Linked DNA regions of Homo sapiens. The protein of the gene in region 6 purifies or fractionates together with the protein of the main gene of each other region. This does not show direct contact. Each region holds a gene or a part of one and is shown on either strand. Other genes may lie near its edges.

Region 1 (4,652 bases), on a different chromosome or scaffold from region 6:
GACTGAAAGGTAGAGATATGTGTGCTGGCAACCTGAAAATATCGCTATTTTATTTAATGAGATTTGTGGGAAGGGAGAGAGAAGAATTTTCTCAAGATTTGGAACATTTTAAGGAGGGCCAGTTCTCTGTAACTGTATAGGGCATAGACATCGAGTAATTCACTGATGTGAAAATATTTCACCATCAAATGAGTTTGTGAATGAGTTGATATTGTTTTGAGGTGATGGAAGAATATATGGAGTTTTTTGCCTTGTGAATTATGTATGATTTAGTCTGTAAACTTTACTTCTGGTTTGAATAGGATCTTCCTCAGGAAATGGAAAAGTTGCAACAGCTCCGACAAGGTACTACGATGATATATATTTTGATTCTGATTCCGAGGATGAAGACAGAGCAGGTAAGTAACCTATTTACCAGGTTTAGCAGTTATATTTTATAAAAAAGGTTTACCTAACAATTATTAGATGTTAGGATTTCCCTCTGAGTTTGGTCTTTTAAGAAATTACAGCTAGGCATGGTGGCTCACACCTGTAATGGCAGCACTTTGGGAGGCTGATGCAGGCAGATCACCTGAGGTTGGGAGTTTAAGACCAGCCTGACCAACTTGGTGAAACCCCATCTGTACTAAAAATACAAAAATAAGCCGGGCATGGTGGTGCACGCCTGTAGTCCCAGCTACTTGGGAGGCTGAGGCAAGAGAATCAGTTGAACCCAGGAGGCGGAGGTTGCAGTGAGCTGAGATTGCACCATTGCACTCCAGCCTGGGCGACAGAGTGAGACTGTCTCAAATAAATAAATAAATAAATAAAGTGGATGCCATTGATGTGAAAACAAAAGCAGGATTGATTAATAAGAAAAACTGGGGGCTGGGCATGGTGGCTCACGCTTGTAATCCCAGCACTTTGGGAGGCAGAGGTGGGCAGATTGCCTGAGGTCAGGAGTTCTAGACCAGTCTTGCCAACATGGTGAAACCCCATGTCTATTAAAAATACAAAAAAATTAGCCAGGCTTGGTGCCATGCACCTGTAATCCCGGCTACTCAGGAGGATGAGACAGGGAAGTTGCTTGAACCAGGGAGGTAGAGGTTGCAGTGAGCTGAGATCGCATCATTGCACTCCAGCCTGGGCAACAGAGTGAGACTCCGTCTCAAAAAAAAAAAAAAAAAAGCTGGGGACACAGGCATGTGAGGACATGGCACCAACAGTGGTGCTGCTTGGATGTACCTAGGGAGTGAGAGAGAGTGTGTCCCAACTCAATACCTCCCCTCCTCAGGGCTTTTCCCCCCTCTTCCTTTAGGTTTCCTATAGTAGCAATATTTGTTTTCATGCCTGAAAATAGTTTCTATGTTTTAATCCTCCTGCAGAATTTTTTTTTTTTTGAGATGGAGTTTCGCTCTTGTTGCCCAAGCTGGAGTGCGATGGCACCACCATCTTGGTTCACTGCAACCTGTGCCTCCCGGGTTCAAGCAATTTTCCTGCCTCAGCCTCTTGAGTAGCTGGGTTTACAGACGCCTGTCGCCATGCCTGGCTAATTTTTTGTTTTTTTAGGAGAAACGGGGTTTCACCATGTTAGCCAGGCTGGTCTTGAACTCCTGACCTCAGGTGATCCACCCGCCTCAGCCTCCCAAAGTGCCGGGATTACTGGTGTGAGCCACCGCGGCCTGGCCTCCTCCTGCAGAATTTTTCTTAATGCGTTGATTTTTAATCAGCCTCTATGTTCAAAATTGAATTTTTCTTTCTTTCTTTCTTTCTTTTTTTTTTTTTTTGAGACGGAGTCTCGCTCTGTCACCCAGGCTGGAGTGCAGTGGCGCAATCTCAGCTCACTGCAAGCTCTGCCTCCTGGGTTCACGCCATCCTCCTGCCTCAGCCTCCCGAGTAGCTGGGACTACAGGCGCCCGCCACCACACCCGGCTAATTTTTTGTATTTTTAGTAGAGAAGGGGTTTCACTGTGTTAGCCAGGATGGTCTTGATCTCCTGACCTTGTGATCCACCCACCTCGGCCTCCCAAAGTGTTGGGATTACAGGCGTGAGCTACTGTGCCCGGCCTGAAAATTGAATTTTTATAAAATTTGAGCAAAGTTGAACATAACAAGAGCTAAAACTAATTATTTCAGTAATTACAATGAAATATTCAAATAGCAAATTTCTGTGGTAAAGAACAATATTATACTTTTATGCATTGTTACTTAAATATTGACCTGTTAGAATGTATGTGTTTGTTTATTTATTTATTTATTTTGAGACAAAGTCTCGCTCTATCGCCCAGGCTGGAGTGCAGTGGCGTCATCTCAGCTCACTGCAAGCTCTGCCTCCTGGGTTCACACCATTCTCCTGCCTCAGCCTGCTGAGTAGCTGGGACTACAGGTGCCCGTCACCACGCCCGGCTAAATTTTTGCATTCTTAGTAGAGATGGGGTTTCACTGTGTTAGCCAGGATGGTCTCGATCTCCTGACCTCGTGATCCGCCCGCCTCAGGCTTCCAAAATGCTGGGATTACAGGCATGAGCCACCGCGCCCAGCCTTGTTTATTTATTTTTTAGGCAGAGTCCCACTCTGTCACCCAGGCTGGAGTGCGGTGACACAGTCTTGGCTCACTGTAGCCTCTGCCTCCTGGGTTCAAGCGATTCTGGTGCCTCAGCCTTCCTGGTAGTTGGGACTACAGGCACAAGCTACCATACCCGGTTACTTTTTGTATTTTTAGAAGAGACAGGATTTCGCCATGTTGGTCATGCTGGTTTGAAACTCCTGATCTCAGGTTGTCTGCCCACTTTGGCCTCCCAAAGTTCTGGGATTACAGGCATGAGCCACCACTCCCTGCCTGCTAGAATACATTCAAAAAGTCTAGTGTATGTAGATGGCCATAGTTTTTTTTTTTCTCTTTTTTTTTGTTTTTTTCCTCTTCCTTTCTTTCTTTCTTTTTTTTTTTTTTTTTTTTTTGGTAAAGATTGGGTCTTGCTTTGTTGCTTAGGCTGGTGTCAAATTCCTGGCTTCAAGCAATCCTCCCAAAGTGCTGGTATTACAGATGTGAGCCACTGTATCTGACCTCATACTGTTTTTTTTAATTCACTTTTGAAATATTTTTGTTCTAATTTTAGTAGCATTTTATATATATATTCATACATCATAAATAATTTCTATTCTTGGCTTGTTTTGAGTGGCTCTTTTGAGTCTCTGAATTCTCATTGTTTGAACTTAGTCCTTGAGATACCAGTTTTGGGTAAATAAACAATTTTTGCCTCCTCTGTCATTTTAATGCCTTATTAGTTGGAGAAGAACTTTATTTTTTAAATTTTTGTTAAATTTTTTACTTTTTTAGAGATAGGTCTCACTCTTACCCAGTCTCCAGCAGTGCAGTGGTGCAATTATAGCTCACTACATCCTCAGACTCCTAGGCTCAAGCCATCCTCCCAGCTCAGCTTCCCTAGTAGCTAGGACTACAGGTGTGCCTGGCTAATTTTTAATTTTTATTTTTGTAGAGATGGGGTCTCATTATGCTGGCCAGGCTGGTCTTGAACTCCTGGCCTCAAGCGATCCTCTTGTCTCAGCCCCTCAAAGCTCTAGGATTATAGGTTGTGAGCTACCGCACCCTACCTGGACAAGCACTTGTTTAGATGAAGGGTTTTTTTTAACTTTTTTTTTTTGAGACGGAGTTTTGCTCTTGTTGCCCAGGCTGGAGTGCAATGGCGTGATCTCGGCTCACCACACCCTCCACCGCCTGGGTTCAAGTGATTCTCCTGCCTCAGCCTCCCAGGTAGCTGGGATTGTAGGTGCCTGCCACCACGCCTGGCTAATTTTGTATTTTATTTTATTATTTTCTTTTTCTTTGAAACGGAGTCTCGCTCTCATCACCCAGGCTGGAGTGCAGTGGCACGATTTCGGCTCACTGCAACCTCTGCCTCCTGGGTTCAAGCAGTTTTTCTGCCTCAGGCCCCCAAGTAGCTGGGATTACAGGTGCCTACTACCATGCCCAGCTAATTTTTATATTTTTAGTAGAGAGGCGGTTTCACCATGTTGGCCAGGCTGGTCTCGAACTCCTGACCTCAGGTGATCTGCCCACCTTGGTCTCCCAAAGTGCTGGGATTACAGGCGTGAGCCACCGCACCTGGCCCTAATTTTGTATTTTTAGTAGAGACGGGGTTTCGCCATGTTGTCCAGGCTGGTCTCGATCTCCTGACGTCAGGTGATCCACCCACCTTGGCCTCCCAAAGTGCTAGGATTACAGGTGTGAGCCACTGCGCCCGTCCCTTTTTTAACTTTTTAGGGAAAATATAAATAAATGTGTAGCTTGGGAAATGAGACTCTTCATTTAAAGAAGTGTGAACTTGACACATGATTCTTAGCCATATCCTAATATTTTCAAAATTAGTACAGGTGACCAAGAAAAAAAAGAAGAAACAACACAAGATTCCAACAAATGACGAATTACTGTATGATCCTGAAAAAGATAACAGAGATCAGGCCTGGGTTGATGCACAGAGAAGGGGGTAAGAACTTAAAGTTAATATTTAGAATCTTTAGAAAAAAAGATTGAAAGATGATTTTTACTACATTCACATTTTGAATATATGTGTATATGTTTACACAAACACACACACACAAACAAAAAAGTTAGAGGAAAAAACTGCTCAGTAGTTTATTTTGAAAATAACCAG
Region 2 (4,652 bases), on a different chromosome or scaffold from region 6:
GCTCGTTGCAACCACCGCCTCCCGGGTTCAAGCGATTCTCGTGCCTCAGACTCCCGAGTAGCTGGGATTACAGTGAATCTGGTTTTTAATGGTCTAGTTAGCTCCTGATGTTTTGCACTAACAGGACATTCTGATAGGGAGAAGCGCTACCAGAGAGAAAGATTTAATGGCTTTATCACTTACTAGTTGTGTTACTTTGGGCAAAGTAATATCCTCATTGTAAAAATAGGTTGGGGCCGGGTGCAGTGGCTCATGCCTGTAATTCTAGCACTTTGGGGGGCCTAGGTGGGAGGATTGCTTGAGCCCAGGAGTTTGAGACCAACCTGGGCAACATGGTGAAACTCAATCTCTACAAAAAATATGAAAAGTTAGCCAGGCCTGGTGGCATGTGCCTGTAGTCCCAGCTACCCAGGAGGCTGAGGTCAGAGGATCCCTGAGGCTGCAGTGAGCCATGATTGTGCCACTGCACTTCAGCCTTGAGACCCTATCTCAAAAAAAAAAAAAAAAAGTTGCAGGCCCTACTCTATTTTCTTTCTTTCTTTTTTTTTGGAAACAGAGTCTCGCTCTATCCCCCAGGCTGGAGTGCAGTGGCGCGATCTTGGCTCACTGCAACCTCCGCCTCCTGGGTTCAAGCAATTCTCCTGCCTCAGCCTCCTGAGTAGCTGGGATTACAGGCACTTGCCACGATGCGTGGCTAATTTTTGTATTTTTAGTAGAGACGGGGTTTCTGCATGTTGGCCAGGCTGGTCTGGAACTCCTGACCTCAAGTGATCCGCCCGCCTCAGCCTCCCAAAGTACTGGGATTACAGGCGTGAGCCACCGTGCCAGCCCTATTTTCATTTTGGATCTATAGAATCCTTGGAGTGAACTAGCAGTAGAAATTCATTAAAATAGAAAGGGGTTATTTGCTTGTCTTAGAGCCAGTCTTTTGGATGGAAGTGGGGGAACCTGTCCCATGCTACTGAAAGAAGCTGTGCTAAGGAACCATGTGGAACAGTAGGATGTGATCTAGCAAGTGAGCTAAATACCTGGGGCTTTTAGAAAAGAAGAAAGAATGATGCCCACATTCTTCACAAAGGAAAAAAAAAAAGAAAGTGAGAGGCATATTAGGAGATAGCTTGAAGGGCTGGGGCTTGGAGATAGAAAAACTGCATTCTCCTTAAGTTCTTATAGTGCTAATGTTTACCTCCAGGTAGTATGTTAGGTCCTGCAGAGAGGCTTAGGGAGCAGGTAACTTTTGCGTAAAGGTTTTTTAAAAAACCCTGTATCTAGAGAAACTAGGGAATTTTTAGGAGATCAGGACAGGAGACTTACTGGAAAGTCAGGGTAGGGGACTATTGCTGGCTTGATATAAACATGTTGTCTCAGCTGGGTGCGGTGGCTCATGCCTGTAATCTCAGCACTTTGGGAGGCTGAGGCAGGCGGATAACTTAAGATGAGTTCGAGACCAGCCTGGCCAACTTGGTGAAGCCCTGACTCTACAAAAAAATACTAAAATTAGCTGGGTGTGGTGGCATGCGCCTGTAGTCCCAGCTACTTGGGAGGCTGAGGCAGGAGAATTGCTGGAACCCAGGAAGCGGAGGTTGCAGTGAACTGAAATCGTGCCATTGCACTCCAGCCTGGGCGACACAGTGAGACACTGTCTCAAAATGAAACAAAACAAAAACGTGTTGCCTCCTTTGTATATTGGGTGAATGGCTCATGGTCAGATAATGGTAATATTTTCTTTGACTTAGCCACAACTCTTGGACAGATAGCTACATAAGATTTTCATCTCCATCACTAAGTATTGTGGATACTATAGTCAGTGTGTCTTGTAGTGATCTTCTTTCACATATGGGGAAATGGGCTACAGTCCCAAAGGAAGTGTGATTTAATGTGGGGAGAATGATATGTGATAAGGTGAGTGTTGCTTCAACGCCCTTTTTAGAGACTGCAGAGGTTTCATTTATTCTCTCAGTATCATCTGTCTAGATACTCCTTCCTTTTCCAAGTCTGGTTTAAGGCTGGGATGAGTACTTCTCAAACTTTAATGGTCATCAGAATTACTTGGGGCAGGGCTTTTTAACCTCTTTGATATTGACATGTTGGGCTGGATAATTCTTTGTTGTGGGAGGCTGCCTCGAGTATTGTATGATGTTTAACAGCATCCCTGGCCTCTACCTAGTAGGTGCCAGTAGTACCTCCTCTCCCAGTTGTGACAATCAAAAATGTCTCCAGACATTGACAAATGTCCCCTGGGAGGCAAAATTGCACCAGTTGAGAATCACTGATCTGGAGTGATTGTTAAAAATGTAGACCCAAGCTAGGCACTGTGGCTTATGCCTGTAATCCCAGCACTTTGGGAGGCCAAGTGGGCAGATCACTTGAGCTCAGGAGTTTTGAGACCAGCCTGGGCAACATGGCGAAATCTCGTTTCTACAAAAAAATGCAAAAATTAGCCAGGTGTGGTGGTGTGTGCCTGTAGTCCCAGCTACTTGGGAGGCTGAGGTGGAAGGATCACTTGAGCCTGGGATGCGGAGGTTGCCGTGAGCCGAGATCATGCCACTGCACCCCAGCCTGGGTGACAGAGTGAGAGGTTGTCTCTCAAAAAAAAAAAAAAAAGTTTGGTTCAATAGAATGGTAGGAAGGCTTAAGAATTTACATATTTAGGAGGCACCCCAGGAGATTCTGAAATAGGGGATCACAGCTCATCAGTATTAAAACATACTCCCTCCTAAGCTGAGGATTGTACAGACTCTTAGTTGACTTGTTTTCCATTTCTTTTTTCTGTCCTGTTTTATAGTATCTTTCTATTCATTATAAAGTTGAGGGAGAATTATCCTCAGAACACTGACTATACTCAATTAAAATAGTGAAAAAAAATTAAAAATCCTCAAAGATAGTGGGAGAGTTTAAAAAAAAATCAATTAAATCCTGTAGTGGACATTAGGGTGTTTTATCCTTAAAAAAATTACCATGTTGGATACATCTATCAACTTGACTAGACACTCAGATTCTTCTCCTGTTTTTCCCTCCAAGTTTTCTGCCATTCCTGTGAATTTGTCTATTTCTGTCTGTTTCACTTTACTATTACCTACATTTACAGACAGATGTATCTACATCAGACAATTATCTTTTACTTTCTACCATGGCACCTTCATCCACTGACAAACTAGAGTGGTGGCTACTCAAGATATCTAGACATTTCACAGTTTGTTCATTAAAGCCCATGAGTACATACTCCCCCTTACTCACCTAGAACCTCTTCACAGTTTCTCTGTAGGCCCTCAGCTTTGTTTATGTATAGATGACTCTGCTCCTGCTCATTCCTCTGCCTTTTGAGATACAGTATAGCATAGTGGAGAAGAACAGGAACTCTAATATCAGGCTGCCTGGGTTTGAGTCCCTACACTCACTTATCTGTACAAGTTTATTTTCTTTTCAATTTTTCTTTTTTTGAAATGGAGTTTCATTCGTTGCCCAGGCTGGAGTGCAGTGGTGCAATCTCGGCTCACTGCAACCTCCGCCTCCTCGGTTCAAGCGATTCTTCTGTCTCAGCCTCTCGAGTAGCTGAGATTACAGGCATGTGCTACCATGCCCGGCTAATTTTGTATTTTTAGTAGAGATGGGGTTTCTCCATGTTGGTCAGGCTGGTCTCAAACTCCTGACCTCAGGTGATCTGCCCGCCTCGGCCTCCAAAGTGCTGGGATTACAGGCATGAGCCACCAGTCTGGCCCATCTTTTCTTTTCTTTTTCTTTTTTTTTTCTTTTTCTCTTTTCTCTTTCTCTCTCTTTTCTCTCTTTCTCTCTTTCTTTCTCTCTCTCCCTCTCTTTCTCTCTTTTTCTCTCTTTCTTTTCCAGTTCATGCTTTAGTTTTCTCATTGTAAACTTTCTGGATCATAGGGTTGATATGAGGATAAAATGAATTAATATATATAAAGTGCTTAGAACAGTGCCTGGTACATAATAAGAGCTAAATAGACTCTGGTTGTTATTTTATTTTTATTTTTTTTGAAATGGAGTTTAACTGTTGTTGCCCAGGCTGGAGTGCAATGGTGCGATCTCGTCTCACTGTAACCTCCTCCACCTGACTTCAAGCGATTCTCCTGCCTCAGCCTCCTGAGTAGCTGGGATTACAGGAATGCGCCACCATGCCCGTCTAATTTTTGTATTTTTAGTAGAGATGGGGTTTCTCCATGTTGGTTAGGCTGGTCTCGAACTCCCAACCTCAAGTGATCCACCTACCTCGGCCTCCCAAAGTGCTGGGATTACAGGTGTGAGCCACCGCGCCTGGCCCTCATTCAATATTTTCTATGTAACTTACTCACATTGCTTCATGTATCAGTAATAGGCTCTTGTAAATTTCTATGTGGTATTCTATTGTATGACTGTATCATAATTGTCCCATTTACTGCTGATGGATATTTGGATTCTTCTTATATATTAAAAAAATTCACAAACACAAAAGACCCACTTTAATAAACTTTACAAAAACATTTCAGAAAAGGAATGTTTATGCTCTGTTTAGGCACGGTGGCATTTCTGTTTCCTGAACACGCCAAGTGCATTCAAATCTTGAGGTCTTTGCACTTGACATTCCATCTCGAACAATTTTCTCAAGATTTTTACTTGCCTGGTTTCTTCCTGTTATTCCAGATCTTAGCCCAAGT
Region 3 (4,652 bases), on a different chromosome or scaffold from region 6:
TATTAACTATAGTCTGTATAATGTATAATAGATCTCTTGAACTTATTTATTCCTCCTATCCAGCTGAAATTTTATGTCCTTTGACTAGCATTTCCCTGATCCCCCTAGCTTCTGATAACCACCATTTTATTTTCTTAATGAGCTTGACCTTTTTACACTCCATATGTAAGTGAAATCACGCTGTATCTGTCTTTCTGTGCCTGGCTTATTTCAGTTAACATAATGTCCTCCAAGTTCATCTAGGTTGTCATAAATAACAGGATTTCCTTTTTGAAAGCTCAGTAGGCCAGGTATGGTGGCTCACGCCTGTAATCCCAACACTTTGGGAGGCCGAGGCAGGTGGATTGCTTGAGCCTAGGAGTTCAAGACCAGCCTGGGCAACACGGTGAAACCCTGTCTCCACAAAATACAAAAATTTGCTAGGCATGGTGGCATGTGTCTAGTCCCAGCAACTTGGGAGGCTGAGGTGGGAGGCTGAGATGAGTCCAAGAGGTGGAGACTGCAGTGAGCTGAGATTGTGCCACTGCACTCCAGCCTGGGTGACAGTGTGAGACCTCGTCTCCAAAAACAAAAAAATGCTAAGTACTATTCTGTTGTGTATATGTGCCACATTTTCTTTATTCATCCATTCATGGATGTTCAGATTGATGCTATAGTGTGGCTATTGTGAATAATGCTGCAGTGAACATGGGAGTGCAGATATCTTTTTGACATACTGATTTCTTATCTTTTGGATATATATCCAGTAGTGGGATTACTGGATCATATGATAGTTCTATTTTTAATTTGTTGAGGAGCCAGTATACTGTTTTCCATAGTGACTGTACTAGTTTACATTCCCAGCAATAGTATATAAGGGTTCCCTTTTCTCTACATCCTTGCTGACACTTATTATTGCCTTTTGTCTTTTTGATAATAGCCATTCTAACAGATGTGGTGATATTGTGGTTTAAATTTTCATTTCTTGAATGTTTAATGATGTTGAGCACTTTCTCATATGCCTGTTGACTATTTTTCTGTCTTCTCTTGAGAAGTGTCTATTTATATCCTTTGCCCATTTTTAAATTGGGTTTTCTTTTGCTGTGGAGTTGAGTTCCTTATATATTTTGCATATTAACCCATTATCAAATATATGGTTTGCAAATATTTTCTCCCATTACATAGATTGTCTCTTTACTGTTGTTTCCTTTGCTGTACAGAAACTTTCAGTAATCCCATTTGTCTATTTTCACTTTTGTTGCATGGGCTTTTGGTGTCATATCCAAAAATATCATTGTCCAGACCAATGTCATGGAGCTTTTTCCCTAGGTTTTCTTCTAGTAGTTTTACAGCTTCAGGTCTTATGTTTAAGTCTTCAGTGCATTTTGAGTTGATTTTTGTAAATGTGAGGTGTGAGATGAGGGTCTAATTTCACTGTTTTGCATGTGGATATCTAGTTTCCCCACACCATTTATTGAAGAGATTGTCCTTTGACCTTTTTGTGTTTGTCCTTTGACCTGTGTGTGTGTGTGTTTTATTTTTTGGCATCTTTGTTTAAAAAAATTGACCATAAATATGTGGATTTATTTCTGGGCTTTTATTCTGTTCCATCAGTCTGTGTGTCTGTTTTTATGCCAGTAACATACTGTTTTGATTACTATAGCTTTGTAGTAGATTTGGGAATCAGGTACTGTGATGCCTCTGGCTTTGTTCTTTTTGTTCACAATTGCTTTGGCCATTTGGGGTCTTTTGTGGTTCCATATGAATTTTAGAATTGTTTCTTCTATTTCTGTGAAAATTGTCATTGAAATTTTGATAGGGATTGTATTAAATCTGTAGATTGCTTTGTATAGTATGGACATTATAGCAGTATCAATTCTTCCAATCCATAAACGGGACATCTTTTCATTTTATTTGTGTCTTCTTCAATTTCTTTCATCAATGTTTTATAGTTTTCATTTCAGCCTCCCAAGTAGCTGGGATTACAGGCATGCACCACCATGCCGAGCTAATTTTGTATTTTTAGTAGAGGTGGAGTTTCACCATGTTGGTCAGGCTGGTCTCGAACTCCTGACCTCAGGTGATCCACCTGTCACAGCCTCCCAAAGTGCTGGGATTACAGGCGTTAGCCACCGCACCTAGCCTATACTTTCATATATATATATATGTATATTTGTGTTACTGAATAGTGTCCCTTGCTCTCTACTTGAAGAACACCCTTGAGCATTTTTTATAAGATAGATCTTGTGGGGATAAGCTCCTTCAGCTTTTGTCTGGCAGAGTCTTTGTTTTTTCCTCATTTCTGAAGGAGAGCTTTGCCAACTACAATATTCTTGGTTGACCTTTTTTTTTTTTGTTTTTGTTTTTGTTTTCCGTAAGCATTTTGAATATATTATCCCACTCTTTTCTGGCCTTTAAGGTTTCTGCTGATAAATCTGTTAGAACTCCCTTATAATGTGATGTACTTTTTTTCTTTTGCTGCTTCCAGCATCCTCTCTGTCTTTGATTTTTGATAGTTTGATTATAATACTTCTTGATATAGTCTTACTTGAGTTCAGTCTGATTGGAGACTTTTGACCTTCTTGTACCCAGATATTTATAACTTTCCCCAGATTTGTATAGTTTTCTGCTATTATTTCTTTAAGCTTTCTATCCCTTTGTGTCCGTCTCCTCCTTCTTGAACTCCAGTTCCCATAAATCCCATAAGCTTGCTTTCTTTTCATTCTTTTTTTCTCATCCAACTGTATATTGTCAAATAATCTGTCTTTAGATTCAAAGGTTCATTCTTTTGCTCAATCAGTTCTGCTGTTGATACTCTCTATTGCATTTTTCATTTCAATTCTCGTATTTTTCAGCTGTAGAATTTCTGTTTGATTTTTTTAATATAATTTCAATCTCTCGTAAATTTTTTGTTTTAGTTATTTATTGTTTTCCTGGTTTCCTTTAATTGTTTCTCTGTATTTTCTTGAAGTTCGCTGAGTTTCCTTAAAACAGTTATCTTGAATTCTTTGTCAGGCAGTTCATGTGTCTTCTTTTTCTTTCTTTCTTTCTTTTTTTTTTTTTGAGATGGAGTTTTGTTCTTGTTGCCCAGGCTGGAGTGCAATGGCTTGATCTTGGCTCACTGGAACCTCTGCCTCCTGGGTTCAAGCGATTCTTCTGCCTCAGCCTCCTGAGTAGCTGGAATTACAGGCGCCTGCCACCACGCCCGGCTAATTTTTTGTATTTTTAGTAGAGATAGGATTTTACCATGTTGGCCAGGTTGGTTTTGAACTCCTAACCTCAGGTGATCCATTTGTCTTGGCCTCCTAAAGTGTGTGAGATTACAAGCGTGAGCCATCACGCCCGGCCGTATCTTCATTTCTTTAGAGTCTGTTCCTGGTGCTTTATTTTGTTCATTGGTGGCAACATGTTTCCTTGATTGTTCTTGATCCTCATGGCTATGCATTGGTATCTGTGCATTTGAAGAAGCAGGGACTTTTGCTGGTGAATGGTTTTTGCATTCTGGCTTTGTCCGGAAAAGCCATTCACCAGTCAGCCTGCCCAGAGATTCTGGGTAGGCCATTTGGTGTGATCTGCAGGTAGACTTGCTGGTAGAGTCCTTAGGCAGGGTGGCCTGGTGTTGAGTCCGTGGGGTTGGGGTTGAAGCCTGGATCCACTGGGGTGTACCTGTTGATTGGATCCTCAGGCATGGACCTGGTGCTTGTATCTTGTGCAGAGAGGCTATCCCAAAGCCTAGGTCCACAAGGGCTGACCTGGGGCTGGACTGGGCCTTGAGCCTGGGTCTTCAGAGATTGGCCAGGTGCTAGGATGAACCTGGTGCCCGGGTCCACTGAAATGGGCCTGGAGGCTGAGTCTGATGGATGTGTCTGAAGGCTAGGTTCATTAGGGCTGGCTTGGGTCCTGGGGCCACAGGCCTCAGCCTAGAACCTAGGTCCATAGGGGCAGTCCTGGGGTTCTGAGGGCCGGCCCAATGCTGGGGTCTACTGGGTTGGGCTAGACCCAGGGTCTGCTGGATTGTGGGAATGCAGGGGCCAACCTGAAGGTGGGGGTGGTCATAGAGACTAGCCTGGCACTGGGCAGGCCTGGAGCCTGTGTCTGCAGGCTCCAATTTGGGTGCCATTGGGGTGCCAATTTGGCACTGGGCTATGTGGGCAGACCTGGCTCTGGTTTTGTCTGGAACCTAGGGTGGGACTGGATTCTGGGGCCATAGTTGCTGGCCTGATGCTGGGTGGGCCCGGAGTCTGTATCTGCAGGGGCCAGCATGGAGGCTGGGTCTGTGGGTGCAGGCATTATGACTAGGGATGCAGAGCTGGACTGAGGCCTGGTGTTGGGGTAGGCTGAGAGCCTGAGTCTGGGTGACCTTCCCTCTTAAAGCAGATAGTCATGAAAATTCAAAGATAAGCTTTGTTCTAAGTGTGGGAAGACAGGGACATGCCAGCAAATGGACTTCTTTTAAGCATTCAGTGGCTGGGAGCTGACTAGCAAGCAGCTTCTCCAGATCCTATCCTTGACCATGGTGGCTGAGGGTCTTGGGTTAGCTAAGCTCCACTTTACCTAGCATTCCATCCGCAGTAAGTTAAGCCTTGGAATAAAGACTGCATTGGCAAAATTCTTAACATACTACTGTGAGTGCTGGTGAGGGTGTCATAAGATGGACAGTCTTTATATCACTG
Region 4 (4,652 bases), on a different chromosome or scaffold from region 6:
GAAATAATACAAACCCTAACACCAGGTCTCCGGGATTTAGAAGATGTCCCAAATGAGTACGACAAAAATACTGTTTATCTGTATTCATTTCAGATGTCTTCTGTACCCAGACTTCCCCGAGGGTATGCTTAAGAGGAAAGAAAATGTACTCTTCAATAATCTAAACATAACTCTAAAAGCATCTCAGAGAAAAGTTAAATACAATATTGATTTTTGGTTTTCTAATTTTTAAAGACAGAAAATTTTTTGTATTTTTCTGATGTATGAAACACTGTCAAAATTAACAAATTACTGAATCATGAGTATAGAAAGACTCACAAACAATTCATAAAAATAAATCATTGACTTTTTCTAAGATTTTATTCAAGACTTTTATAAAACATTAATAATGTCCCTAAAAATATATATATGTAGAATTTTCAAAAGAAATGTTTTCACAGGAAGATGGGCCAACATAGGCAGAGTGAACAAAATAACTGAAAAGGTAGGGGAATCTTAAAGCAAGAACGTATTCCAAGCAAACTCTTGCTTGACACAAGGGTTCAGAAAATCAGGGTCCAGACAAAACAGCCTAGAAATCCTGGTAGTAAACCACTAGAGAGGCCAAATCTTTATCAAATTAATTTTTAAAGTATCTACTAGTGTAGACTACAATCATTCTCTACATCTGCTATATATAATATAGTACATCTGCTATATATAATATATATATAGCAGAAACAACATCCCAATTTTTAAACTAGAAAACTATTAATTCCCTTTCTAACATGCCAACACCTTTAACAACAAAGACAGACCAACTGAAGTGAGATCGAGAGAAAAATACTAAGAGTTATAAATAAAATTAAGGAATCTCAAAATAAAGTTATGAAAAGAATCAAGTGTTTCTTATTGCAGTTGGTCAAAGAAAAAGAAATGAAAAAAATGAAAAGAAATAGAGCAGAAGGAGAAACTGAAATAAAAGACAAGTCTCAAACTTAAGAACTGCAAAAGAAAAGTCAATTAACAGGGAGACTACATTTTATTTAACAGGATTTACTTTCTAGCTATTAGACTTCTGCTTGTAAGAAATTTATTAACCTCTTCTAGCTATTTTTTAAAAACCAAGAAAATACAGTATCTGGTTTTATATCTGCCTGAAGGGAAATGATACTCTACATTTATTATAAATGAAAAGTTTGCCCTAAGTACATTACCTTAATTTATAAATAAAATGTAGAATGTCATCTGTCTTCCATTTCCATTAATTTTTCCCAAATTATCACAAGTTATTTTTGTCTCAAGAAGCATTATTAGCACGCACACACACACACACACACAAGGGTACCCTGGGAGTCTCTAGATACTATTTCACAGTAAAAGAAGCCAGACTTTCATCTTTGAAGAAACATTTGATTTCAGATATGGGTTATAAACTATACATGTGATTCTGGAACACCTGAATGCTGTGTTGCACCAGAAATCAAGGATGCTTTCAAAGACCAGGAGAGTCACGTCAAAACAACATAGGAACCATTCTGAAGGGGCTCCCATTGAATAAATTTAGGGCAATATGAGGATTTCAAAAAAAAGAAAGGGCAGGCGCTCATGCTCATTCCTATAAGGGAGGCAGTAGGATCGTTTGAGACAAGCCTGAAAAAACAGTGAGATTGACTCTACAAAAAATTAAAAAATAGAAATGAGACAGGTGTGGCAGCATGCTGAGGTGGTAAGATCACTGGAGCACACAACCTCAAGGTTCCAGTGACCTATGATCATACCATTGAACTCCAGCTCTGAGAGACAGAGTGAGACCTTGTCTCTTTAAAAAAAAAAAAAAAAAAGGAAAAGAAATGAAGGGAGAGGAGGAGAGAAGAAGAAAACAAAAGAAAATACAGTAAATGATACAATACTTATACTTCAGGAGATCACAATGATAATCACAAAGAGAGACACCACCTGTACATGTAAGCTAATTTTCACCACTGGAAATGATTCCTAGATCAACTCTTTACTCTAAAAATATTTGCTAAAAGAATTAATAATTTATGCATAGGCCAGGGGAGGTGGCTCACGCCTGTAATCCCAACACTTTGGGAGGCCAAGGCAGGAGGATTGCTTGAGCTCAGGAGTTCAAGACCAGCCTGAGTAACATGGAGACCCCATCTCTACAAAGAAATTAAAAAATTAGCTGGGCATGGTGGCACATACTTGTGGTCCCAGCTACTCAGGAGGCTGAGGCAGGAGGATCATTTGAGCCCAGGAGTTTGAGGCTGCAGTGAGCTATGAAGCCATACCGCACTCCAGCCCAAACAACACGGCAAGATCATGTCTAAAATTAATTAATTAAAAGAATGTATGCAGGCGAGCATTTCAGGAAAGCTACATAACCCCTAGTTAATAATGAAAAGCTCTTCTTTAAGAATGACAGCTAGTAAATGTAGAATAGAAATAGAAAATTCACCATTTTGTAACCCTGAATAAAATAATTAATTTATGGGCAAGAATTATCAACAGATGCTAAAGCCAGAAAAAAAAAGAGGTAACAGGAACTCAGTACTTGCATATTATTATAGTATTAAGCCACAGATTGCTTGCTGGTCAGAAGGAAAAAAAATCATAACATTACAATGGAGGAATCTGACTATCACTATGTTAACAAGTGAAACAGTCAGACATTACTTGTCTCTTGATATAATAAAAAGTACATGGCATCATCTCTGAAATATTCTGGCAAGAAAAATTTAACCTAAATGTAACCAAACCTTTAGATCAACTTTCCAGTTTAGAGGAAACACAATGAATTAAGAAGCTAGTTAAATGGCATCATGAGGAAACAATTAGATAGATTTAGAAGGTGGAGTATTCTACAAGATAAATGCACTAGTTGTCTAAGGAAGTTGGTATCATAACCAATAAAAGAAAAAAGAAGGGGACTATTATTAAATAAAAGACTAAAAAGGTATAATATTCCCATTTAATGAGTGGTCTCCAATTGAATACCTGTTTGAACAAGGCATAAAAGACACTTTTGGGACAAATGAGGAAATCTGAACACAGTAATCCCCCCCTTATCCATAGTTTCCCTTTCAAAGTTTTCATCTGCCCACAGTTAATCGCTATCCAAAAACAGGTTGGTGGAGTAGAATTAGATAACTTTAAGAAAGAGACTACATTCACACAACTTTTATTACAGTATATTATTATAATTGGTCTATTTTATTATTAATTATTGTTAATCTCTTACTGTGCCTAATTTATAAATTAAACTCTATCATAGGTATGTATGTATAGGAAAAAACAATACACATAGAGTTTGGTACTATTGTGGGTTGTTTCAAAAATCCACTGGGGGTCTTGGAATGTATCCCCATGGATAAGAGCAGAATACTGTGTAGACTGTATGTTTTATAGGTATGGTAACAACATTTTCATTATGTAGAAAAATATTCCTGTGTGTGAGAGATGCACACTGAAGTATTTAGTATTTGGTGATGACTTTTTAAAAGTCAAGATAACCACTACAAAAATAAAGGTCCTCCTCTATAAAAATAAAGCAAAGAAATGCCTTTTTTAAATATAATGGAATAAACATTTAAAAGATTTTTCCTACACAAAAGAGAATAAATTAACTTAACAGTCTAAGTCTAACAATTTCCACAATGACCACATATTAAAAAGACAAAAAAAAAAAGAATTTTTTTCCTAATGTGGTGCTAAGTTTGGATTCCATACTGTGGAAACACCAACAAATTTTTTTTAAAAGAGGGACTGAAACAATAATAACTGAGGGGAAAAAAAAATACACTGGCAGGCAGGATGTAGCTTACCTTTTTTGATATCATTCCAGCACCTGCAGCACGTTTTATATCTTGGACTATGCTGCATTCCATCACAATAAACTCCTCTAGCTGTTTGGGATGACATAAACTATTGAAAGGGTGACTCCAGAAAGTGCTCCCATCAATATCTGCCACTAAAAATAAGGATAGAACACAAAAACATAAGAAAAATTATATATTTCAATTATCAAATGTATTAACTAAGAATAAACTGGTAGATACCAACTGGGAAGTGGCAGGTCAACAGAACTAGTGTCAACTCACTCCTTAGGGTCATCAATTACTCCTATAAACCAATCCCAAACTTCTCAAAGCACAAGAAAAATATATCAGATGTCAAACATATCTTAAATAGTTACTATAACCAGAATGCCACAGGGCTAAGTGCCTCTTAAGTAAGATCAGAGCCAATCAGTGGTACAGCTGTTTCACGTGCTGGCACTTTATTTTAGAAACGTATCTGTCACCTTAGCTGCTTAGTTTATGGGAAATAAAGCCTAGTTCTACCAGATAGGTAAAGAATGTCCATCCCAATATTGCTAACAGATCTTTAACTTATGAATCCTAACTGATAAAGATAATGAATGACTTTGAAAAATATCAAAATAAACTCACTTTTTGTATAAAGGAAACTTATATTACAGAAAATACATGAAAAAGATCAAGCAGAAGATACATCCAAATACTAAGATACCTACCAAAATGTGGTCTTCCTTAAAAAATAATTTATTCTATAGACAATGTTAAAAAATGATCTACAGTAATAACAAAATTGGTTAAAATTCATATTCAAACTAAATGTTCCAATGGGCCACAAAAAGCCAAATGTTC
Region 5 (3,500 bases), on a different chromosome or scaffold from region 6:
ATAAAAGACCTCGGCCTCCCAAAGTGCTGGGATTGCAGGCATGAGCCATCGCACCTGGCTAGATTGTTAAATCTCATAAATTCCCTTTCCTTCACACCATCAACCCTGTGTTTCTGCTTTTTGTTTAAATAGTATAATCCCTCTGGAACGGAAAAGCATTGTTTGGGAACATTATTAGTCCCTATACCCACAAGGCAGGACAAATCACGGTGTACTTTTGTAGCATCACACACAGGATCATATCTTGGGAATTTCCTTTGGGAGAATTCCTCAAACGAGCCACAGCCTCAGGGGTGCCACATTTTTTTAAATTAAAAACTTCAAAAAATTTTCAATAGCTTTTGGGGTACAAGTGTTGATATGGTTTGGATTTGTGTCCTGCCCAAATCTCATGTTGAATTGGATGAGGGTCCTGATGGGAGGTGATTGGATCATGGGGGCAGATTTCCCCCTTGCTTTTCTCATGATAGTGAGTTCTCATGAGATCTGATGGTTTAAAAGTATGTGGCAGTTCTACCTTCTCTCTCTTTCCTGCCACCATGAGAAGAAGGCCCTTTCTTCCCCTTCACCTTCCGCCATGATTGTAAGTTTCCTGAGGCCTCCCAGTCATGCTTTCTGTTAAGCCTGAGGAACTGTGAGTCAATTAAACCTCTTTTCGTCATAAATTACTGAGTCTCAGGTAGTTCTTTACAGCAGTGTGAAATGGACTAATACAAGTGGTTTTTAGACACATGGATGAATTGTATGGTGGTGAAGTCTGAAATTTTAGCGCACCCATCACCTGAGTAGTATACATTGTACCCATTATGTAGTTTTTTATCCTTCACTCTCCGTCCCAGCCTCCCACTTTGAGTCTCCAAAGTCCATTATATTATACCACTCTGTATGCTTTTGTGTATCCGTAGCTTAGCTCCCATTTATAATGGAGAACATACAATATTTGGTTTTCCATTCCTAAGTTACTTCACTTAGAACAATGGCCTCCAGGTCCATCTAAGTTGCTGCAAAAGATATTATTTTGCTCTTTTTTAGGGCTGAGTAATATTCCATGGTGTATATATCCACCACATTTCTATCATCCAGGAGTGATGCAACTGAACTGGTATTTTTTCCCTACACTAAGTCTGTCACTTTACTACCTACTTATTTATTTCTTTTTGTTTTCTAGAAGTTCCTCCTGCTAGTTTAATTGGTAAAAATATTTTAAGACCTCACCCAGGTCAATGAATATGTTGGCGATTTAAATTTAGACATGTAGTATTGGTTTGAAAAAAAAGGTTTGGAGTGAGGATTCAGTAATTCAGGCCTTTGGGATCCTGGGATAACCTGAAGAGTTATCCCAGGATTCCAGAGAATCTTAGGGAAATGTATCTTTGTCATGCTAAATGGTTTTACCCAAAGAGACCCAGGGTGTGGATGGCTCTCCCTCTAGCACCAAAATATATGGCAGCATGGATTTAGGATGCCTATGGGAAAAAGAAGCCACAGCAAAGGCACAGTCAAAATGAATGGCTAAAAAAAATTCTCATAAGCCGTTAAAACTATCTTATGCCACTTCAATTGCTGTAAATTTTATAAAGAGTTAATAGAAACACATTTTTGGTGAATTGATCATTTGACAAATTGATTGCCTCTGGGAGGGCTTGTTGGGTCAGCCTCGTGTGGACCTATTTGTCTGCTGATTGTTTCTGGGTTCCCAGCTGGGCAAGGTGTCTTTGGGGTGGGTTCAACTGGCCATAGACTACCTATCCAGAAAGCTTCCTACACTATGCCCACATGGCCACAGTTTCACCAGCCAGATGGGAAACAGTATGCAATTCAACACCTTCTGCTGGTTCAAAAGGCAATCTGTCTTAATTGGATGTTATCCAAAAGCAGGTCAGAAATCACCCTGATAAGTGAAAAATCCACTCATGGTGATCACTGATCCAGGATAATAATAACCAGTCAATTTTGTATAGCTATTCAGCTGATCTATGGCTCATCTGAGTCCATGGATTTAAAAAAATGTTGTGCCAATGTTTACTGGCATGTAAACAAAATTTTTTATTTCCCTGTGTGTTTGTGTGTGTGTGTGTGTGTTTTAATGGAATGCTTCGCGAACGTGCCTGTTGTCTTTGCACAGGGACCATGATCATTTTCTTTGTATCATTCCAATTTTGGTATATGTGCTGCTGAGACGAGCACTATTTCCTAGTATTGACCAAGGTCTAGAATGTAAGAAAATGACTTCCTAGAGAAAAAAAACCAACTCGTTCAAGAAAGCTAGTAAACAAGTTAATTGTGAAGGCAGAATAACAACATAGAAATTTCACAGACTGTTAAGATTAGTGGCCTTTGCACCTAGGCTTGCTGTCTGTTTAGCGTTAGTTCCTTCCATGCATATATAGATTTTCTGTCTTGTGCATTTTATTATCTTGCTGTAGACTCTCCCCTTTCTAGTCTCTCTCTTAGTCTGTATCAATTGCTGTCATTTGATATCTTTTATTGATGCTGATTCTACTGAAATGAGTAGCTGCATAATAGACTAGTTCGCTTGATGTTAAATGTTGTTCTGTGCAACTAATACCCTTGTGGAGTTGAGAAATATGCTTGTGAACACAGAAATGAGTGATTTGCAGACTATCTAACTGTGTCCCAGCAAACCAGGCTGCTTAGCATCACTCTGATGTTAGTCCTTTGATTGAACTACAAAGCGTGAGAAGCACTTGTATCTAAGGTTAGATACAGTTTGGATATTTCTTCTGTATATTTCTTTAATGAGGATCAGCAGATATGGGAGTCTGATAACATATTTTATTCTGATTTACTCACAAAGGAGATGGATAAGACTACTATTTCAGAACATCTTTTCACTGAGGACCTTTAAAGCATTTACTGTGGATTAGACATTAATCCTAACCTATCTAAGACAGACCACAGGTACTTTGATTTCAAGAGAGAAGTACTGAGGCACAGAGATCAATACATCACGTACAGGCCACTTTGCTGGCTTGTGAAGCTCACAGTTTACATTTTCAGCTCTCTGGGCCCTGAATTCTTGAATGTCTTATTCCTTGTTTTTCACTAACCTTCCTAATATCCTTTTCCCTCTGCAGAGGAAGTCACTGGCAGCCTCTTTTATTTTGTGCATATGCAAAAACCAAACCAAAACAACAAACCTAAACCAACCAAACAAAAGTCATTTTTTTTTTTAATACCAGCTGAGGCATTGCCTCTTTTAAAAATTAACGTTTTTATTTTGAAATAAAATCTACAGAGAAATGGGTAATACTTGCATTTACAATTTAGCAAATGGTTTTGAAGTGTTTACTCTGTAACTATTCCCTTCCCACACATATTGTTGGCACCAGGAATCTCCCACCTTGTATGTTTTTGCATCGAAACTTCGCCTAATTTTTAAAATTGAATATTTTCTTTTTTTTTTTGAGACAGAATCTCGCTCTGTCACCCAGGCTGGAGTGCAGTGGTGCGATACCAGCTCACTGCAACCTCTGCCT
Region 6 (4,652 bases):
TTGTTGCCGTTGGGTGTGCATTTCCACCCCTTCTTTGGTGAGAGTAATAGACGCTGTGCTGTACAACACAGATGCTGCTTTTTCACATTGGAATTAGTTCCATATGACTTCCAGGAAACAGAGTTTGAAATGTGAATTCTACTTGTTATTCTGAATGTTGTTCTTTCTCCTTCCTCAGGCATTCCAGTGCCTCTCAAAGGCATACAAGTGTGACACCCAGTCCAATTGTTGGGAGAAAGATATTACATCATTTAAGGAAGTTGTTCAAAGAGCCTTAGGACTTGCACATGGTATTTGATGTAACATTTGATATCCATGGAATGTTTTGACTTATTTTCTACTGACAGAAAAGAGTGTTGGTCAAAAGTAAAGTTCCATTATAAATAGTATCAAATTATTTCATTATATTGACATTGTTGTATTTAATTCAGCAAACATTCATAGACCACCTACTATGTAATAGGCATTTTGAAATAAGAAGAAGAAACAGGATAGAGGCTTATATTCTGTTGGAGTAAGTAACAGAAATTGGAAACTTTTTTAGAGATGTGAAACATCTTTACAACTTTGTATAACCTTCATTCCACACTGAGTTTCACTGTATTGATTACATAGCATTAAGGAAATCTGTTAATTTTAACTTGACTCACACATAGATCTCTGGGGTACATAGCAGTATGCAGAGCTGTAGCATATACAAAAGAAATATAAAATAAAAGCCTTATCTTTGGGAAATGGTAGAGGATATTGTTTGAGGAAAGGTTTAACCTTACATATAAAATTATATGCCTGTTGGGTAAATATAGTCCAAATAAGCATTGCTTTTAGTTATTAATTTTTAAAAATGCCAGTTAAATTTGGTAATGCATTTTTATATTTATATTTGAATATGGGTGTGTGATGCAGTTCCAATAAAATAATGATGCCCCCAATGTTAAGAACTGAATCACAAAGACCTTACACCAATCCTAAAGTTCTCCTTCTACTTCCCTGCCTAACTAACTTCCTTGCTGCCACTAATAATTACAACAAATAGGGAGCAAACAAGGAAGAATGCAAAGGGCAGAGCTTTAAGATCAGGGAGACCTAAGCTCCAGGACCAGCTCTATCACATGCTTGCTAGTTGACCTTGGGTAAATAATTTAACTTCTCTGAGCCTTACTTTCCTCATCAGTAAAATGGGATAATACCTACCCATGAAGAATAAATGAAAACATTCAAACACTTAGCAGTATTTCACACATGGTTTAGATATTAATACCCTACCCTCTCACCACCACCCTCTTCCTTCCAAAGTAGAGGACTTGAGCTATAGATGATAAGGGACTCAAAACTAAAAAAACAAAAATTAAGAACAAGGATAAAGTTTGGCTTGCTTATAAAGAAGTCACAGAACATTCAGAAAATTTAGAAATTAGCTTGGTAGTTGATAATTCTACTTTTGACCTTTGATATCTTTGACCTAAAGGATATAAATATCTAATTTCCTGGGTCACCAAGCACTTGGCAGAGAAGGTAGAAGTGCTGAGCTCTATATAGCTGAAAGTCAATGTAGAAAAGTTGGGGGTAATTGCTAATAGAGCCGTAGAAGGATGTTTTGGGGGTGGTTAGAATTCATGTGGCTTCTACTGACCTCATGATGGGTGGGCTCAGTTGGGATCCAGTCCTTATGCTTTTGGTCTTTGTGGATATTGTATGATATTTGGGGAAACCCACACTGATGTATTAGGTACATAATTAGCAGGATGGGATTTACTTTGAAAAATTTATCTTATCTACTTCAACTTGCCAACTCTAAGCATTTCTATGAACTGCTCGTCTGTAACAGTCAAAGCCACGCTATTTTCTGAACTCACCAAGTAATGGTATTAAACCTGTCAAAGAGAGATATGCAGGTTAAAGAGATACTCTAGGAAAAATCTTTATTTTGCATCTTAAAGTTGGGTTTAAACTGTTATTGGCATTATTTTCTTCATCAGGGCAATACTTGGAGAAAAACAAGTGTCCATTCTTTTAAGTTCTCCTCTGACATCATTGAATTATGTGTTCATGCTCCTACAACATTTTAAGCGTATTTGAGTGGATGCCCAGCTTTCGTTTCTGATGATATTTTAGATTTACAAAGATAAATCTTAATCATTTCCTTGTTACTTTTGTACCTTAGTGCAGAAAGAATAAGCTGGATTTCTCTGTGTATGAGTCTCTTCAAAACATTGTTCCTCCACCCCACCCAATTATAAAAAGGAAATACAATCAAGCATCCCATAGCAACATTTTGGTCACCAGTGGACCCACATATATGACAGTGGCCCCATAATATTGTAAAACCATATTTTTACTGTACCTTCCCAATGTTTAGATAGACAAATACTTACCATTGTGTTCTGATTGCCTGCAGTGTTCAGTACAGTCACATGCTGTACAGGGTTGTAGCCTAGGAGTAGTAGGCTATATACCATGTAGCTAGGTGCATAGTAGGCTATACCATCTAGGTTTGTGTAAGTACACCCTATGATGTTCTCACAACAACAAAATTGCCTCACCACACATTTCTTACACCGTATCCCCATCATTAAGTGATGCATGACTGAATAACATTTTTAAAAATCTCCACATGGTTTACTCCTTGGGTTGCTATCATTAAGGTAGCCATGCACTTCAGAAAGCTTGATAAGATATTGCGACCTTGACATAGTATTTGAGGCCTCCCTATAACAATGTCATCATTGTGTGCTCATTTGTATTGTCTGGAAGGTATACATTTATAGTTTCTGCTATTTGATTTTCTGGGAAAGGGTGGGCTAAAGTGTTTCAGCTCTTTGCCATCCAGGAGTTTTTAAAATAAGAGTTAATGCATTTTAACTGCAGTTTACATAGAGGAGGCACTGCTGCTTCAGATTTTTTTTTTTTTTTTTTTTTTTTTTTTTTTGAGACGGAGTCTTGCTCTGTCGCCCAGGCTGGAGTGCAGTGGCGCGATCTCGGCTCACTGCAAGCTTCGCCTCCCAGGTTCACGCCATTCTCCTGCCTCAGCCTCCCAAGCCAGCTGGGACTACAGGCGCCCACCACCACGCCCGGCTAATTTTTTGTATTTTTAATAGAGACAGGGTTTCACCGTGTTAGCCAGAATGGTCTCAATCTCCTTACCTTGTGATCCGCCCGCCTCAGCCTCCCAAAGTGCTGGCAGATTTTCTGATGATTTGAAACAGCAAGTTATTTCTCTCCCTCTAGCTGTCTGTCTCTATCTCAGTCTATAATGCCTTTTGGAAATGGGATTGAGTAGGAAAACTAATAGAGTATATCTGTCTTTTTGCTTTACTTTTGTTTTTGTCAGAATGAAAATAAGGGATTAAAAAAGAAATACAGCAGTTTCTGATCTAAACTGCTGGGTACTAAACAGCTCAAATACCGCTGCCATGGTGGTTACAACTTTCCTCTACTAAGAGAAACAGATTAATAATCCCCGCTATCTCTGGGCTAACTCTGCCTTTTGAAAATGGGCTTAACATTGCTAATTATTATGCATCCTCTCACCCTTTAATGAGAAATGTCAAAGTCTAATTATTATTCCTCATTATTACTCTAAGATAGGAATGTCAAACCTAGTTCTTGCTGGCCTTGGAAGATATTAATTAATGACAGAACTCTGTTTTGCCAGGCACAGGCAGCCTCTACCGATTGATTAGTCTTTGCGTGCAAAAAGAAATCTATTGGGCTGGGTATGGTGTCTCATGCCTGTAATTGGGAGGCTGAGGTGGGTGGATCACTTGAGCCCAGGAGTTCAATATCAGCCTGAGCAACATAGTGAGACCCCATCTCTACCAAAAAATTAAAAAATTAAAACATTAGCTGGTTGTGGTGACATGCACCTGTGGTCCCAGCTACTTGAGAGGCTGAGGTAGGAGAATCACTTGAATCCTGCAGGTTGAGGCTGCAGTGAGCCATGATTGTGTCACTGCACTCCAGCCTCGGTGACAGAGCGAGACCTTGTCTCAAAAAAAAAAAAAAATTGATTTTCTATCCTTGGTCTACAATCTAGAGTATAAAGTAGACTTTAATCCTTGCGCTGTTTAGTGTCATTTTAAAGGAGTATCTGATTATTGGTCTGTTTGAATTTAGTGAGCATAATTTAGGGAACAAAACCAAGAACAAGCCAGTGGGGAAATATTGGGCATTATGTTTGTACAAAGCTCTTCACTCGTTCTCATAAAGCATTAATAGCCAGGCCTTCTACCAGGAAGAACGATGCCTTCTTCGTAGTTTCAGGTTTTGGGAAAATGAGTTCCCCAGAATGCTGGGAGCAGAGTTGTGATTCACTCTTGCCCATTCCCTGCTGATGCCAAGCCTTGCTCAGGAACTTAAGAACCTGGTTGTGGTCGCGTTCTCTACATGAAGACACATGGGTTGCTGTCAGTGCTTCCTGAATGGTGCTTCAAACCCTGATTATGAAAATGCAGTAAGAATTGAGCTGTACAGATCTGGCATGTCACTTCCTTGGGCTTGTGTCATCAGCAGTTGTGAAGTCCCCATTGGGGACTTGGTAGCATGGAAAGCCACACAAAGATGTGCTGCATCTGTTTTTGTCTGTGTGGGTACTTTGTTTTCAATAATATTTTGTCTCCTTGCCTAATTTTATTTGTCTATGCACATGTGTG
Region 7 (4,652 bases), about 37 Mb from region 6:
GTGAACTCAGCATTTTGGGAGGCTGAGGTGGGAGGATCACTTGAGGCTTGGAGTTTGATACCAGCCCGGACAGCATATTGAGACCTTGTCTCTATATTTTAAAAACAAAAAAAGAAAATGAAGACTTTAATTCTGGCCAGGCGCAGTGGCTCACGCCTATAATCCCAGCACTTTGGGAGGCCGAGGCGGGCAGATCACCTGAGGTCAGGAGTTCGAGACCAGCCTGGCCAGCGTGGTGAAACCCTGTCACTGCTAAAAATACAAAAATTAGCCAGGCGTGGTAACACACGCCTGTAATCCCAGCTGCTGCTCAAGAGGCTGAGGCGGGAGAATCGCTTGAACTCAGGAGGTGGAGGTTGCAGTGAGCTGAGATAGCGCCACTGCCCTCCAGCCTGGGTGACAGAACGAGACTCTGTCTAAAAAAAAAAAAGACTTTAATTCTATAAAGTAAGAATCTACCAAAAATGAAAAAGAAGCTGGGAAGAGAAAATGAGGATTTGAGAGTAGTATGTAGCTTAGACTCTAAAATAATATCTGGGAGAAGTTTGAAAGTTAAGCAAGTGATGAATTAATAGGATTGGTCAGCAGTTCGGAGGGCCCATCCGAAAGTGGACCGAAATGGATAGGATAGATGAGTTCTCCTTGGCTGTCATAGTTCAGTGTAGAGATGCTCAGAGACTAGGAGTCAGAGCACAGTGGACCCAGAGGGTTTGACTTGGCAGTATGATGAAAAATTGTAGTCTGATGTGAATGGTCAGAAGAGAGAGAGATGGAATATTTGAAGATTGTGAGCAGGAAGTACATGCTTTTTTTTCTCAAGAAAGATGATGACATAGGTTGACTGTGAGGGAATGTATAGAGATGTCATGACTTAACTAGTGATTTGAGCTCCAGAATGTTAAATGTGCAAGAGACGTGTCATGGAGCCCCTTCTAGTGGCAATAGTTACAGTAAAGTAGGGGAGACATGAACCAATTAAACACACAAATAATTGAAAGTCTTAATTGTTTCACTCCATATGTTATTTTTGTATGTGTGATTTATTTTATTTTACTTTTACATTTTTTATTTTTTTGAGACAGAGTCTCACTGTGTCGCCCAGCCTGGAGTGCAGTGGCGCAATCTCGGCCCACTTCACCCTCTGCCCCACCTCCTGGGCTCAAGTGATTCTTCTGCCTCAGCCTCCTGAGTAGCTGGGACAGGCACGCGTCACCATGCCTGGCTAGGAATTTTGTATTTTTAATGGAGACGGGGTTTCACCATGTTGGCCAGGCTGATCTCGAACTCCTGACCTCAAGTGATCCACCCTCCTCAGCCTCCCAAATTGCTGGGATTACAGGCGTGAGCCACGGCATCTGGCCTTTATATGTGCTTTTAGGATTGTAGAAGATGTACCTTGGCTGGATGCATTGGCTCATGCCTGTAATCCCAGCACTTTGGGAGGCCGAAACAAGAGGATCGCTTGAGTCCAGGAGTTCGAGACCAGCCTGGGCAATGTAGTAAGACCTCATTTCTACAAGAAATAAAAAAATAACTGGGCGTGGTAGCTTACGTCTGTAATCCCAGCTACTCCAGAGGCTGAGGCAGGAGAATTGCTTGAACCTGGGAGACAGGTTGCAGTGAGCCAAGATCGCATCACTATACTCCAGCCTTGGCGACAAGAGCAAAACTCCATCTCAAAAATTAAAAATAAATAAGTAAATAAATAAATAAATTACAGGCACATTAGCATGTGCCTGTGGTCCCAGCTACTTGGGAGGCTGAGATGAGGGGATCACTTGAGTCCAGGAGGTGGTGGTTTTAATGAGCTGGGATTGTGCCACTGTACTCCAGCCTGGGCGACAGAGCAGACCCCTGGTGAAAAGAAAAAAGAAAATGTATCTCAAATAATACTTAATTTTAAAGAAATCTTAAATGTAGAATGTGATTCCATAATTATAATATTGACTAGTTCACTGCAACCTTGAACCCCTGGGCTCAAGTGATTCTCTCACCTCAGCCTTCCAAGTATCTGGGACTACAGGCATGCACCACCATGCCTAATTTTTTATTTTTGGTAGAGGCAGGGTCTCCCTGTATTGCCCAGGCTGATCTCAAACTCCTGCCCATGATCCTCCCGCCTTGGCCTACGAAAGTGCTGGGATTACAGGTATCTGCTACTGTGCCTGGCCTGTAGAAAAATTTATAGCTGAAGGACTGGGAGTGTGTGTATGGGAATAACAGTAGTTATCTCTGAGAAAGGGGTTGGAACCTGTGTGGAGACAGAAAGGAGAGATTTTCACAATTCTGTAGCATCTGTATAGTTTTAATATTTATTTATTTATTTCAAATTTTAATAGAGACAGGGTCTTGGTATGTTGCCCTGGCTGGTTTCGAACTCCTGAGCTCAAGTAACCTCTGCCTCTCTTCCCACAGTGCTGGGATTACAGATGTGAGCCACTGCTCCTGGCCTACTTTGAATTTTTAATGATGGTGATGAATTAATTTGTGACTAGCATTATAAGAAAAATAAAATTTAGAGTTTAAGTGACATTGTAGGTAGATTTTGATTCAGAAGTTTTAAGTTTAGAGAATGAATTTGAACACTTATCACTGATAAGTTACAATGTTTAGGGTCCCAAAATATTGCAGCTGTCAAATGATAAAATATATAAAAATAAAATTTAGTATTCATAAGGACATAAATGCAACCAGACATAGGAATTTTAATAATTTGACGAGTCAGTTTTCTTTTCAGTAAGGTTTAACAGTCTGTATTTGCAGCTACATTGCTTTCAACCAGGTGTGTCTAGTCTGTGATCCAGATTGCTTCTGAAATTTTGTTAGCAAGGTGCTCATAATTGCTTTTTTGTCATTGAATTTAAGTTGCCATTTATTGAGAATGATGCCTGTAGGTTCAAGCATCTGCTTCAGTTATGGAGTTATTTTATTCCAAGTATATTCCATTAGTAAGAAAGCTTACACTTGTGAAGTGCATGCTGATTTGGGGGTAGAGAATCTATGCTTATACAGCTACTGTGTGTGCTCTTAGAGCAATTACTGAAGAGTGGCGGAAAGTTGATATTAGGCTTTTGTCATTACCTTACTTAAGAACTGTTTATTGGGAGTTTAGGCCGGGTGCAGTGGCTTATGCCTGTAATCCTAGCACTTTGGGAGGCTGAGGCGAGTGGATCACCTGAGGTCAGGAGTTCGAGACCAGCCTAGCCAACATGGCGAAACCCCATCTCTACTAAAAATACAAAAAATTAGCCGGGCATGGCGGCGGCCACTGTAATTCCAGCTACTTGGGAGGCTGAGGCAGGAGAATTGCTGGAACCTGGGAGGTGGAGGTTGCAGTGAGCTGAGATGGCGCCAGCCTTGGCGACAAAGCGAGACTCTGTTTCAAAAAAACAAAAAACAAAAAACTGTTTATTGGGAGTTTTGATAAGACAAGTCAAAGACCTGAAAATAGAGGTCAGACTAACGATTTCTGCTCTAACAAGCATCATTGTGAGTTGTGAATGCCTCCCTTGTGAACATGCCCTGTGTACCTGATGAATTGCTGCCAGTATTGTCTCGGGCACCCCAAGATTACAGTTAACCCGGTATCCCCGCAGGTGGAATGTCTTGGGCTAGTAGTGCTATCAAGGGACAGGGCTATGAAACTGACAGGTTCAACTTCTTAGCTCCCATTTTCCTCATCAGGTATGTCTGAGGCTAATCCCCTTCCTTCTTCTAGCTCTGTTACTTTTTTGTTTGTTTCTTTGTTTGTTTTTTTGAGACGGAGTCTTGCTCTGTTGCCCAGGCTGGAGTGCAGTGGTGCAGTCTAGGTTCACTGCAACCTCTGCCTCCCAGGTTCAAGCTATTCTCGTGCCTCAGCCTCCCGAGTAGCTGAGACTACAGGCACGTGCCACCACAGCTGGCTATTTTTTTTTTTTTATTTTTATTTTTAGTAGAGACGGGGTTTCACCATGTTGGTTAGGCTGGTCTTGAACTCCTGACCTCGTGATCCGCCCGCCTCGGCCTCCCAAAGTGTCGGGATTACAGGTGTGAGCCACTGTGCCCAGCCAAAATGTTCTTAAGCTCTCAAGATTCATATAGTGAGCCATTATAAACCAAGGAGATTGGAGTTAGAAGTATTATTAAAGTTGAATGCTGTTGTTGAGTTACATTATTAAAAACAGTGAATTTAATATTGCATTACTTAATCTTTTTTTTTTTTTTTTTTTTGAGACGGAGTCTTGCTCTGTTGCCCAGGCTAGAGTGCAGTGGCACGATCTCAGCTCACTGCAACCTCTGCCTCCCAGGTTCAAGCAATTCTCCTGCTTCAGCCGCCTGAGTAGCTGCGATTGCAGGCACCTGCCATCATGCCTGGCTAATTTTGGTATTTTTGTGGAGACGGAGTTTCAGCGTGTTGCCCAGGCTGGTCTTGAACTCCTTACCTCATGTGATCCACTCGCCTTGGCCTCCAAGTTGCTGGGATTACAGGCGTGAGCCACCCAGCCCTGCCGCATTAATCTTTAAAAAAAAGTAGAGTCTATAAATTGTCTTAAAAACAATTTTATATCATTAGCATTTAAATAGTTTTAACACATTCATATACATCTTTAATCTTTAAATCATTTACCATCCGGCTTACATTTTTATGTTTTTACCAACTTTCATTTTTATCA

What was found.
Region 1: the proteins of TTC27 (region 6) and EAPP purify together in Homo sapiens (affinity purification with mass spectrometry; one large-scale study listed by BioGRID and IntAct). This does not show direct contact.
Region 2: the proteins of TTC27 (region 6) and ARMH3 fractionate together in Homo sapiens (co-fractionation; one large-scale study listed by BioGRID). This does not show direct contact.
Region 3: the proteins of TTC27 (region 6) and RIC3 purify together in Homo sapiens (co-immunoprecipitation; one large-scale study listed by IntAct). This does not show direct contact.
Region 4: the proteins of TTC27 (region 6) and NMD3 fractionate together in Homo sapiens (co-fractionation; one large-scale study listed by BioGRID). This does not show direct contact.
Region 5: the proteins of TTC27 (region 6) and DNAJC12 purify together in Homo sapiens (affinity purification with mass spectrometry; one large-scale study listed by BioGRID and IntAct). This does not show direct contact.
Region 7: the proteins of TTC27 (region 6) and GFPT1 fractionate together in Homo sapiens (co-fractionation; one large-scale study listed by BioGRID). This does not show direct contact.

The regions. Positions count from the first base shown.
Region 1 is NC_000014.9:34,529,190-34,533,841, reverse strand, and holds part of EAPP (E2F-associated phosphoprotein), read left to right. Parts: intron 1-302; coding exon 303-398; intron 399-4,366; coding exon 4,367-4,484; intron 4,485-4,652. UniProt on the Homo sapiens protein: May play an important role in the fine-tuning of both major E2F1 activities, the regulation of the cell-cycle and the induction of apoptosis. Promotes S-phase entry, and inhibits p14(ARP) expression.
Region 2 is NC_000010.11:102,045,439-102,050,090, reverse strand, and holds part of ARMH3 (armadillo-like helical domain-containing protein 3), read left to right. Parts: intron 1-4,652. UniProt on the Homo sapiens protein: Involved in GBF1 recruitment, Golgi maintenance and protein secretion.
Region 3 is NC_000011.10:8,112,997-8,117,648, reverse strand, and holds part of RIC3 (protein RIC-3 isoform a precursor), read left to right. Parts: intron 1-4,652. UniProt on the Homo sapiens protein: Molecular chaperone which facilitates proper subunit assembly and surface trafficking of alpha-7 (CHRNA7) and alpha-8 (CHRNA8) nicotinic acetylcholine receptors.
Region 4 is NC_000003.12:161,241,811-161,246,462, reverse strand, and holds part of NMD3 (60S ribosomal export protein NMD3), read right to left. Parts: intron 3,956-4,652; coding exon 3,810-3,955; intron 128-3,809; coding exon 15-127; intron 1-14. UniProt on the Homo sapiens protein: Acts as an adapter for the XPO1/CRM1-mediated export of the 60S ribosomal subunit.
Region 5 is NC_000010.11:67,807,189-67,810,688, reverse strand, and holds part of DNAJC12 (dnaJ homolog subfamily C member 12), read left to right. Parts: intron 1-3,500. UniProt on the Homo sapiens protein: Probable co-chaperone that participates in the proper folding of biopterin-dependent aromatic amino acid hydroxylases, which include phenylalanine-4-hydroxylase (PAH), tyrosine 3-monooxygenase (TH) and peripheral and neuronal tryptophan hydroxylases (TPH1 and TPH2).
Region 6 is NC_000002.12:32,812,326-32,816,977, forward strand, and holds part of TTC27 (tetratricopeptide repeat protein 27), read left to right. Parts: intron 1-178; coding exon 179-290; intron 291-4,652.
Region 7 is NC_000002.12:69,376,765-69,381,416, reverse strand, and holds part of GFPT1 (glutamine--fructose-6-phosphate aminotransferase [isomerizing] 1), read left to right. Parts: intron 1-4,652.